3 linked regions of the Homo sapiens genome follow. The protein of the gene in region 1 interacts with the protein of each later gene in a pairwise test. Each region holds a gene or a part of one and is shown on either strand. Other genes may lie near its edges.

Evidence for each region.
Region 2: the proteins of WDR62 (region 1) and P4HA3 interact in binary tests that used the Homo sapiens proteins (3 or more experiments, as listed by UniProt).
Region 3: the proteins of WDR62 (region 1) and RALY interact in a two-hybrid assay, tested with the Homo sapiens proteins (one large-scale study listed by BioGRID and IntAct).

What each region holds. Positions count from the first base shown.
Region 1 is NC_000019.10:36,068,273-36,071,928, reverse strand, and holds part of WDR62 (WD repeat-containing protein 62), read right to left. Parts: intron 374-3,656; coding exon 213-373; intron 1-212. UniProt on the Homo sapiens protein: Required for cerebral cortical development. Plays a role in neuronal proliferation and migration.
Region 2 is NC_000011.10:74,284,106-74,287,761, forward strand, and holds part of P4HA3 (prolyl 4-hydroxylase subunit alpha-3 isoform 1 precursor), read right to left. Parts: intron 2,287-3,656; coding exon 2,123-2,286; intron 1,881-2,122; coding exon 1,704-1,880; intron 1-1,703. UniProt on the Homo sapiens protein: Catalyzes the post-translational formation of 4-hydroxyproline in -Xaa-Pro-Gly- sequences in collagens and other proteins.
Region 3 is NC_000020.11:34,083,042-34,085,434, reverse strand, and holds the end of RALY (RNA-binding protein Raly), read right to left. Parts: 3' UTR 551-2,393; downstream 1-550. UniProt on the Homo sapiens protein: RNA-binding protein that acts as a transcriptional cofactor for cholesterol biosynthetic genes in the liver. Binds the lipid-responsive non-coding RNA LeXis and is required for LeXis-mediated effect on cholesterogenesis.

The sequences.
Region 1 (3,656 bases):
CACTGTTTCTTCCCCCTACCCAGCCTCACTTCTCACTGTGAGGCTTGCCTCGGAAGGCAAGGACTTTTCTGCTTTGTAATGCCCAGGGCTGAGAGTCATGATGGGTATTTGTGGGATGGACAGACAGATAGATGGATCTGGAAGCATGGATGAATGCCAGTGGACAGACTCTGGGTGGGCCCCTCCCATTCCCTCTCCCCACAGGGCAGTACCTGGGCTCCAGGCCCTGTGCCACGTCTACCCCAAGGTAGTGTGGCTTGGGCAGGTTGGCGAGGTAGTGCAGGCTATGGGCCTGGAAGATGCGGACTATCCCATCTGTGCAGCCACAGAAGATGAGCTCCTGGCTGACACAGAGGCAGGAAGACAGGGAGACCTGTAGGGGCAAAAGGGACCCCAGTGGATTTGGTGCTTCACGTGGCCTGGCCCGGGGATATGGGGACTGACAGAGCAGCCTTAGGCCTCCAGAGAAGACTTACAGTTCCTTGGGTCTAAGACACCCATTTTAGCATATTTTAAGATTTGTGAAATCAGGATATAGCATACTGCTGCTATTGAAAGACATGTGCCAGCAGGTAGGCAGAGGCATGAACGGAAACAGAATTGTCACTGCTGTCTACAGAGAAACGTAGCTGTGTATGGAAAATACCTGTTCAGCAGACTGCAACTTCAGGTAAGTCACTTGTAGTAACAGGGTTGAATTTTAGGCTTAAATTTTTTTTTTTTTTTGAGATAGAGTTTTTTGTTGCGCCCAGGCTGGAGTGCAATGGCACAATCTCGGCTCACTGCAACTTCCACCTCCTGGGTTCAAGTGATTCTCCTGCCTCGGCCTCCAGAGTAGCTGGGATTATAGGCGGCCGCCACCACACCCAGATAATTTTTTGTATTTTGAGATGGGGTTTCACCATGTTGGTCAGGCTGGTCTTGAACTCCTGACCTCAGGTGATCCACCTGCCTTGGCCTCCCAAAGCATTGGGATTACAGATGTGAGCCATCGCGCCCAGCCTTTAGGCTTAAATTTTATTCCCTTTTGCTTACAAACAACTTCATAAAGACTGTACTCCAAAGCGGTACAGAAAAAAGTTACAGTATCTAGAAAGGACTGTCTATCCTACTAGGAAGTGCTAGACCTCTAGATACAGTTTAAGGAGTTTTTCCAAATCTACAGGGACTTAATTTATGAGTCATTTAGTGCTTAGGAAATAAACATCTATCTATTGAAAGCTTTTCACTTGCTTGAAAAAGAGAAAATGATGTTTAACCAACTAGGACAGAGATAAAACTTGGAACTCTTCCACAAGCCATTAACCTCGAAGGTGATCTCCAGAGTGAGTCACAAAGGCAGGCCAGGAACAGGAGAGGAAACCACAACGCTCGGGCGGATAGCCAAATGGGCAACTGATTCCAGATGGGAAAACAGCTTTGACTCAAACCTTCAGATACTAAAGGAAAGAAGCTCTGCAATGTATCGATAGATCATGCTTTAGTTTAAAAGTTTATGGCCGGGCGCAGTGGGAGGCCAAGACGGATGGATCACTAAAGGTCAGGAGTTCGAGACCAGCCAGGCCAACATGGTAAAACCCTGTCTCTACTAAAAATACAAAAATTAGCTGTGCGTGGTGGCAGGCACCTGTAATCCCAGCTACTTGGGAGGCTGAGGCAGGAGAATTGCTTGAACCTGGGAGGTGGAACTTGTAGTGAGCTGAGATTGCGCCACTGCACTCCAGCCTTGGCAACAAGTGAGACGCCATCTCAAAAAAAAAAAAAAAGTAAAAATAAATAAAAATAAATAAAAGTTTATGTATTTTGTGTAGTCTTTTTTGACTGAAAAGTTATTAAATCAATGGTACCTCCAATTTTTAAAAAATGCAATCCTCCTCTCCCTCTCCTTCTCCCCACGGTCTCCCTCTCCCTCTCCCCACGGTCTCCCTCTCCCTCTCTTTCCACGGTCTCCCTCTGATGCCGAGCCAAAGCTGGACTGTACTGCTGCCCTCTCGGCTCACTGCAACCTCCCTGCCTGATTCTCCTGCCTCAGCCTGCCGAGTGCCTGCGATTGCAGGCGCGCGCCGCCACGCCTGACTGGTTTTCGTATTTTTTTGGTCTCCACCAAACACAGGGTTTCGCTGTGTTGGCCGGGCTGGTCTCCAGCTCCTAACCGCGAGTGGTCCGCCAGCCTCGGCCTCCCGAGGTGCCGGGATTGCAGACGGAGTCTCGTTTACTCAGTGCTCAATGTTTCCCAGGCTGGAGTGCAGTGGCGCGATCTTGGCTAGCTACAACCTCCACCTCCCAGCCGCCTGCCTTGGCCTCCCAAAGTGCCGAGATTGCAGCCTCTGCCCGGCCGCCACCCCGTCTGGGAAGTGAGGAGCGTCTCTGCCTGGCCGCCCATCGTCTGGGATGTGAGGAGCCCCTCTGCTCGGCTGCCCAATCTGGGAAGTGAGGAGCGCCTCTTCCCGGCTGCCATTCCGTCTAGAAAGTGAGGAGCGTCTCTGCCCGGCCGCCCATCGTCTGAGATGCGGGGAGCGCCTCTGCCCCGCCACCCCGTCTGGGATGTGAGGAGCGCCTCTACCCGGCCGCGACCCTGTCTGGGAGGTGAGGAGCGTCTCTGCCTGGCCGTCCCATCTGAGAAGTGAGGAGCCCCTCCGCCCGGCAGCCGCCCCGTCTGAGAAGTGAGGAGCCCCTCCGCCCGGCAGCTGCCCCGTCTGGGAAGTGAGGAGCGTCTCCGCCCAGCAGCCGCCCCGTCCCGGAGGGAGGTGGGGGTCAGCCCCCGCCCGGCCAGCCGCCCAGTCCGGGAGGGAGGTGGGGGGAGTCAGCCCCCGCCCGGCCAGCCGCTCCGTCCGGGAGGGAGGTGGGGGGTTAGCCCCCGCCCGGCCAGCCGCCCCGTCCAGGAGGGAGGTGGGGGTCAGCCCCTGCCCAGCCAGCCGGCCCGTCAGGGAGGGAGGTGGGGGTCCGCCTCCGCCCTGCCGCCGCCCCGTCCGGGAGATGGGGGGTGCCTCTGCCCGGCCGCCCCTTCTGGGAAGTGAGGAGCCCCTCTGCCCGGCCACCACCCCGTCTGGGAGGTGTACCCAACAGCTCATTGAGAACGGGCCATGATGACGATGGCGGTTTTGTGGAATAGAAAAGGGGGAAAGGTGGGGAAAAGATAGAGAAATCAGATTGTTGCTGTGTCTGTGTAGAAAGAAGTAGACATGGGAGACTTCATTTTGTTCTGTACTAAGAAAAATTCTTCTGCCTTGGGATGCTGTTGATCTATGACCTTACCCCCAACCCTGTGCTCTCTGAAACATGTGCTGTGTCCATTCAGGGTTAAATGCATTAAGGGCGGTGCAAGATGTGCTTTGTTAAACAGATGCTTGAAGGCAGCAGACTCGTTAAGAGTCATCACCACTCCCTAATCTCAAGTACCCAGGGACACAAACACTGCGGAAGCCCGCAGGGTCCTCTGCCTAGGAAAACCAGAGACCTTTGTTCACTTGTTTGTCTGCTGACCTTCCCTCCACTATTGTCCTAAGACCCTGCCAAACCCCCTCTGGGAGAAACACCCAAGAATGATCAATAAAAAAAAATAAATTAATTAAAAAAAAATGCAATCCTCTACCAGCCAGAGTGCTCAAAGGAGAAAAGAAATGTGAAGTAGATCAAATAGTCATGGGAAAACAACT
Region 2 (3,656 bases), on another chromosome or scaffold:
AATGTCTGGCTTGACAGAAATAATTCTGAGACAATATCTTTAAAGAGGCAACATGCTTATAGAGGTGCATTTTTTCTTGTTAATATTTAGCACACTTCCTAGGGGGAGGATTAAATGTCCTCTTCCCATTGACATCCAGCTTGGCTTGGTGACTTGCAGTGCTTTCCCTGTGGAAGAATTAGAACCTTGCTGTTAACTGCAGTAGTGCCCACATGCTTTGCTCTGACCAGTGAAACATGGGTGGAAGTAACATCTGGCACTTCCATGCAGAAGCTTTATGAACCAGCTCATGTTTGCCATTTGTCTTTTTCCTCTTCCATGAGACTGGCAATGTCCCATACAGAGGCTGCTCTGTCAGGCTGGGTCTCCAAGTGAAGACAGTGGGATGGCTTCAATCAAAATTTAATCTAATCATGATTGTAATTTAATTTAATCATGATTGTAATTTAATTATAATCATAATTACATTATAACTAAATTTTTCCTTAAAACAGCCCTGTTGCCATGGTAATGGGAGAAGTGACCCACCCAGAGATGTCTATTTAGTCATTCATGGCCGTGTCGTCCATTTGGCATGCACAGACCTTGGCACACTTCCTTCCCCTAGAAGCATCTCTCTGGGGCTGCTGATGCCTGTCTGGTTTGTGGCTCTCCCAGGAATCAGCCCTGGGCTCACATGGTAGTGGCTCCCCCATGGAAACTGAAGACAGATGCCTCAGTGGCTTGTGTTGAATATCTGCTTCCTAGTCACTGTCCCTTTCCCAAAGCACACTCACTCAACACTTCTCGCCACATTCTGCCCATCTTTGGAGACTCAGTTGAAGCCCTGCACCTTCGTTGGGCCCGCTAGCCCTGATCATTCTGGCCTCCTTTGGTTCTTTTTATAACGAAATTATAATAATGATTGTAACTGAATTACAAAGTTTAATTTATAATTATATGTTATAATTTATAATTCATAAATGAGGCACAGAGATTAACAATAAAATATAATAATAATAATATACTGTAATAAAATTATGGGAAAATGACCTCTCTCTCTCAAAATATCTTATTGTACTACACTGAGAATAACTGAAACCACAGAAAGTAAAATTGCAAATAAGGGGGACTACTGTACCTCTAAGTTCTAGCTGTGGCTCTAGCTACATGTATGAGCTTAACAAGTCCCTTCCCCTCTCTGGGCCTCGGTTTCCTTTTTAACAAAATAATGAAGTTTAGCTTTCTACTCTAACTCTGTAAATTTGTGCTAGGATTTTACTCCTTGCCGCTGTCATTTCACCCTTTTCCCCACCTCTACCAATTACATAGAATGGTTGACACTTTTGAAGTGTTCTTTTTTATTTGTCTTTTTTTAGGTTAAACTTACATACAATGATATACACAGGTCTCAAGTGGACCATTTGGTGAGTTTTGACAAATGCATACAGCCACATGTACCACGTCCCTAACAAGATATTGAGAGCACATTTTCAATACCCCAGAGAATCCTCTTGTACATCATCCAGTTAATCCTTTCCCTCTAGAGGCAAGCACTATTGTGATTTTTTTCCACCATGGACTAGTTTTATGGAATGGTTGGCATTCTGAACTCCTTGGCTCTTTGAGGTGTCTAGTTGTTCAGGTTGCCTATTCTTACACTCCTGAACTCCAGGCATGTGAAGATGAAAGAGAAATTCTTGGCGGGTTCTCAGGACACTCACCCATGGTTCTGCAAGTTCTCTAATTTTCTGAGCCTCTGAGTCACTGACGAAGTCATGGTAGAGAGCAATGTAGGGCTCCAGGTGGATGACCTCCTTCCGGATGGGCTGGAGCAGCAGGTAGGCGTTGGAATTGGTCTCATAGGAACAGTAGAGGCTAGGGATCTGGTAGAGAGTGGGCTGGAAGGAAAGAATAGGATGAGCATAAGAGAAGAAGGGTCTAGGAGCAAAACTCAACTTAGGGGAACTATGGCATAAAAAAATTGGAATGCAAGAGATACAGAATGTGGTCACTCTGATGCTGCCCAAGTGAGCTTTATTGTTTTTAATGCATCAGCTCTATCCCCTCATGTTATCCCAATTCTAGCTTCTCAAACTCTAGCCAGGCCTCTCCCCCTTTCTCTTTCCCTGAGGAATCCTACCTGGGAACCCAGGGTCTGACATAGCCCCTCGTAGGTGTCTCTGGTCTGCAGGTGGGGTATATTGGGCCTCTGGATGACAGCCTCAGCTACCACGTGGTTGGGGCTCTCTGCCAAGAGCCTTTCATATTTCAAGACATTCCTGGCCATCCTCTTATTATCTGGGCCTGGAAGAAATCAGAGCAGGGAATATAAAATAGGGATTAACAAATACTGGCCCCAGGGAGTGCCACCAAGGTTTCCTCCAGCTTCACTGCTGCACAGGATGGGCAAGTGGATCTCCTGAATAACTCCTCATGTCAACACACAGGAGGATGCAAGGCCCTCACTCCCAGAAGACTACCTGGTATTTTTTTAAAAGACTGACTTGATCCTGGTAGATCTGAAGGTGCAAAGGGTTTTGGGAAGCAAAGTGGAACTTAAAACTCTTAGGCCAAGGGATCATGAAGATGGCTGCTCTGGGATACTGTGATGGTATATATGGCGAAGATGAAGCCTCATTCATTCATTCATTCTTTCACCCATCCATTCAGTAAATCTTCAGTGAACATCTACTATGTACCAGATACTGTGCTACAGGTTGACCTCTCAGAGTTTAGAGTCTAATGGAGAAAAAGGACATTAAATTATCACTTACAACAAAATATGATAAGTGCAATGAAAGAGAAGTCCAGAAAGCCAAAGCCTATTGCAAAAGGACCCAACCTATTCTTCCCCAGAGAATTGGAAGCTAATTCATTCTTGGCTCCACTAGATCTTTCAAATCTCCTAACTGGCCTAGACCCAGAGCAAAGAAGTATGGCGCAGAGGGACTCTAGACTTTGGCTCTAGACTGGATTCCCACAGGGCCCTTGGGAAACCCAATAAATCTTGTGTCTTGTTTGTGCCCACCTGTTTGTACCCACTTTGGCTGCAAGATGCCCCATGCATTGGCAGAGCTACCCGTGGCCTGCTGGCCTCTTTGCATGACTCTCAATGCATCTCAGAAGGAGATGCTGAATTGTTCTAATGCTCCCAAAGCATCTTTCTCTGAGGAGCCCAGTGTGCTTCTAACCACAACCATCACCCTGGCAAAGGAGGAAAGGAAGGGGCAGAAATTACCATTCTGTTTTAACAAGAGAAGAAGTGAAGTTTTGGAGAATGGAAATTATAAGCCCAAACCCCAGTGAAAATATTGCAAAGCCGGAAATAAAACTGGGAATCTCAACTTGCCATGTTCTATTATCCACCTATAAAAGCACAAAATTTGAGTGGATAGCAAAGATTTTAATAGATCAAGTGCAAATAAATAAAGAAGGGTTGGATTATAATTTTGTTTGTACCACTAATTACTCATGTGTTTGTAGATACACAGCTACTTCCTTATCCTATTGTTTGCTAATTATCAGAAGGGAATAATGTTACTAAATGGATTCATTAAAAAGTTTTGTATACATGCAATTATAAAGTCCTACATGAAATACTTTATAAATATTAAAACAAAATAGTGATTTTGTATCTCATTGTAGTATCTAAATACTAAATACTCATGCCTGTA
Region 3 (2,393 bases), on another chromosome or scaffold:
CATCTGTACCTACTCCCCTGGTGTTCTTGGGAGGAAAATGAGTTAGAGGTGAAGATTATGGAGCCATGAGTGGAGTCTGAAGCCACGGATGAAGTCATCCAGGGAGCAAGTACATAGAAAAGAGGGTAGACAGATGCAGGCATATGGGTAAGAGTCAGCAAGAGACGGAGTCTTGCTCTGTCGCCCAGGCTGGAGTGCAGTGGCGCGATCTTGGCTCACTGCAAGCTCCACCTCCCAGCTTCACACCATTCTCCTGCCTCAGCCTCCCAAGTAGCTGGGACTACAAGCGCCCGCCACCACACCCGGCTAATTTTTTTGTATTTTTAGTAGAGACGGGGTTTCGCCGTGTTAGCCAGGATGGTCTCGGTCTCCTGACCTCGTGATCTGCCCGCCTTGGCCTCCCAAAGTGTTGGGATTACAGGCGTGAGCCACCGCGCCCAGCAACAAAACCTATACTCTTAACCTAGCCCCCTGAGAAGCACAGCAAGCTACTGAACCTCTGTGGGCCTGTGTCCTGGTTATCTACTGATACAACAAATCACTCCAAAAGTTAGCATCTTCAAACAACGTTTTATTATCTCTCATGGTGCTGGGCTTTGAATGGCATCAGTGAGGCAGTTCTTACTTTGTTCTCAGACGGTGGCTGGGCTGGAGTCATCTTGAAGCCTTCCTCTCTCATGTCTGACATTTGATACTGCTGTCAGCTGAACATGTACACGTGGCCTCTCTGTGTGGCCTGGGCTGCTTCACAGCATGGTGGTTGGGTCCCAAGAGCTAGAGTCCCAAGAGATAATAAGTGGAAGCTGCTAGTGCTTCAGTCTGGGACTGGGAGACTGGCAGAGCACCACCACCATCATATGCTATTGATCGGTCACAGAGTTTAGATAAAGGCGAGGATAGGATAGAGATGCCACCTTTACTTGGGGCCATGCTTTTAAACCTCATCTACAAAATCTATAGAATAGACATAACCACACAGTGGATGCCTGTTTTTGTTAGCCAAGCCTTGCTCTCCTTTTGGGGATTCTCCCCTCTGTCCCTCTATTCTCACAGGCCCTATGGCCATGCTCTACCACTTCTTGGAACCTGCCCGAAAACCAGATTTTTTCCCCTTGAGTTGGGGTCTCGCTTTGTCACCCAGGCTGGAGTGCAGCGGCAGGATCATGGCTCACCGCAGCATTAACCTCCTAGGTGCAAATGATCTCCCACTGTAGTCCCCCAAGTAGCGGGGACTACAGGCACGTGTCACCATGCCTGGCTAACCGGATTCTCGATGGCAGCTTTTGAACCCAAGTCCCCATGTCTGAAGATCCCTGGACTTTACAATTTGTGAGCCAATAAACTTCCTCCCACTAAGCAGGACTGAATTCAGTTTCTGTAACTTGTAACCAGAAGTCCTTACTACACCTACTGAGGGTGGTTGTGGAGATTAAGTAAATGTAAAATGTGCTTTTTAACAGCAGGTGTTCAGGAAATGGTTTACTGTTATGGAGGAAGTTTATTATGAAGAATCTGGCTACTGGTGGAGGGATTTTGATTTGCCTAAAACCTCAATCAATCAATGATCTGGTTGGGATGAAAACCAAGGATGCCTGGCTCAGAATCTTTTGCTCTGCTTTGCCTTCTCTATTTCTGTGGTCTTGTCAGACAGGCCTACTGCATATAACATCCTATGGGGCAGGTTATGACCTTACGGGTCAACCTGGCCAGGGATGGCAAATACCTGACGCTCACGTGCCCACACTTGAATTCCATGCTCATAAGAGAAACTGCCAAACTATCATGTCAGTATTTCCAAACAGTCTGAAAATTGCTGCAGATCCTCAAAAGGCACTCCAGGCAGCTGCTACTAAAAGTTCTGAGTTGGCAAGTGAAATGAGTCCTGAGGTAGATTTTTTAAATATGGCCATATTTTGAAGCTCCTCCTGTTAAGAAGAATTTGGGCTTAGCCATGTGACTTACTTTGGCCAAAAGATACGTCATAGCAATATCCTCAAGAGCACTCGCATACTGGGCTTGTCTTCTCTTGCGGTTTTTGGAACTCAGCCATGATGTCTAGAATCCTGGGTCAGCCTGCTAGATGCTGGAACGTGTGGCCCAGTTGCCCAGCCAACCACCTGACAGGCGGGCGAGGCCATCTGAGACCAGCCAGTCCCCAGCTGATCTGCCAGCTCACTTCAGCCACACGAGGGCCCAGATGAGATAAGAACCACCACACTGAACACAGCCCAAACTGCCAAGCCACTCACTCAGGAGCTAATAAATGTTTATTAAGGCTACTAAATTTGGGGGTGGTTTGTTATACAACAGTCAGTAACTGAACAAAGGCCCATTTACTATCCCTGATCCAGATCAACCTCTCATTTTACAGCTGAGGAAACTGAGACCTGGTA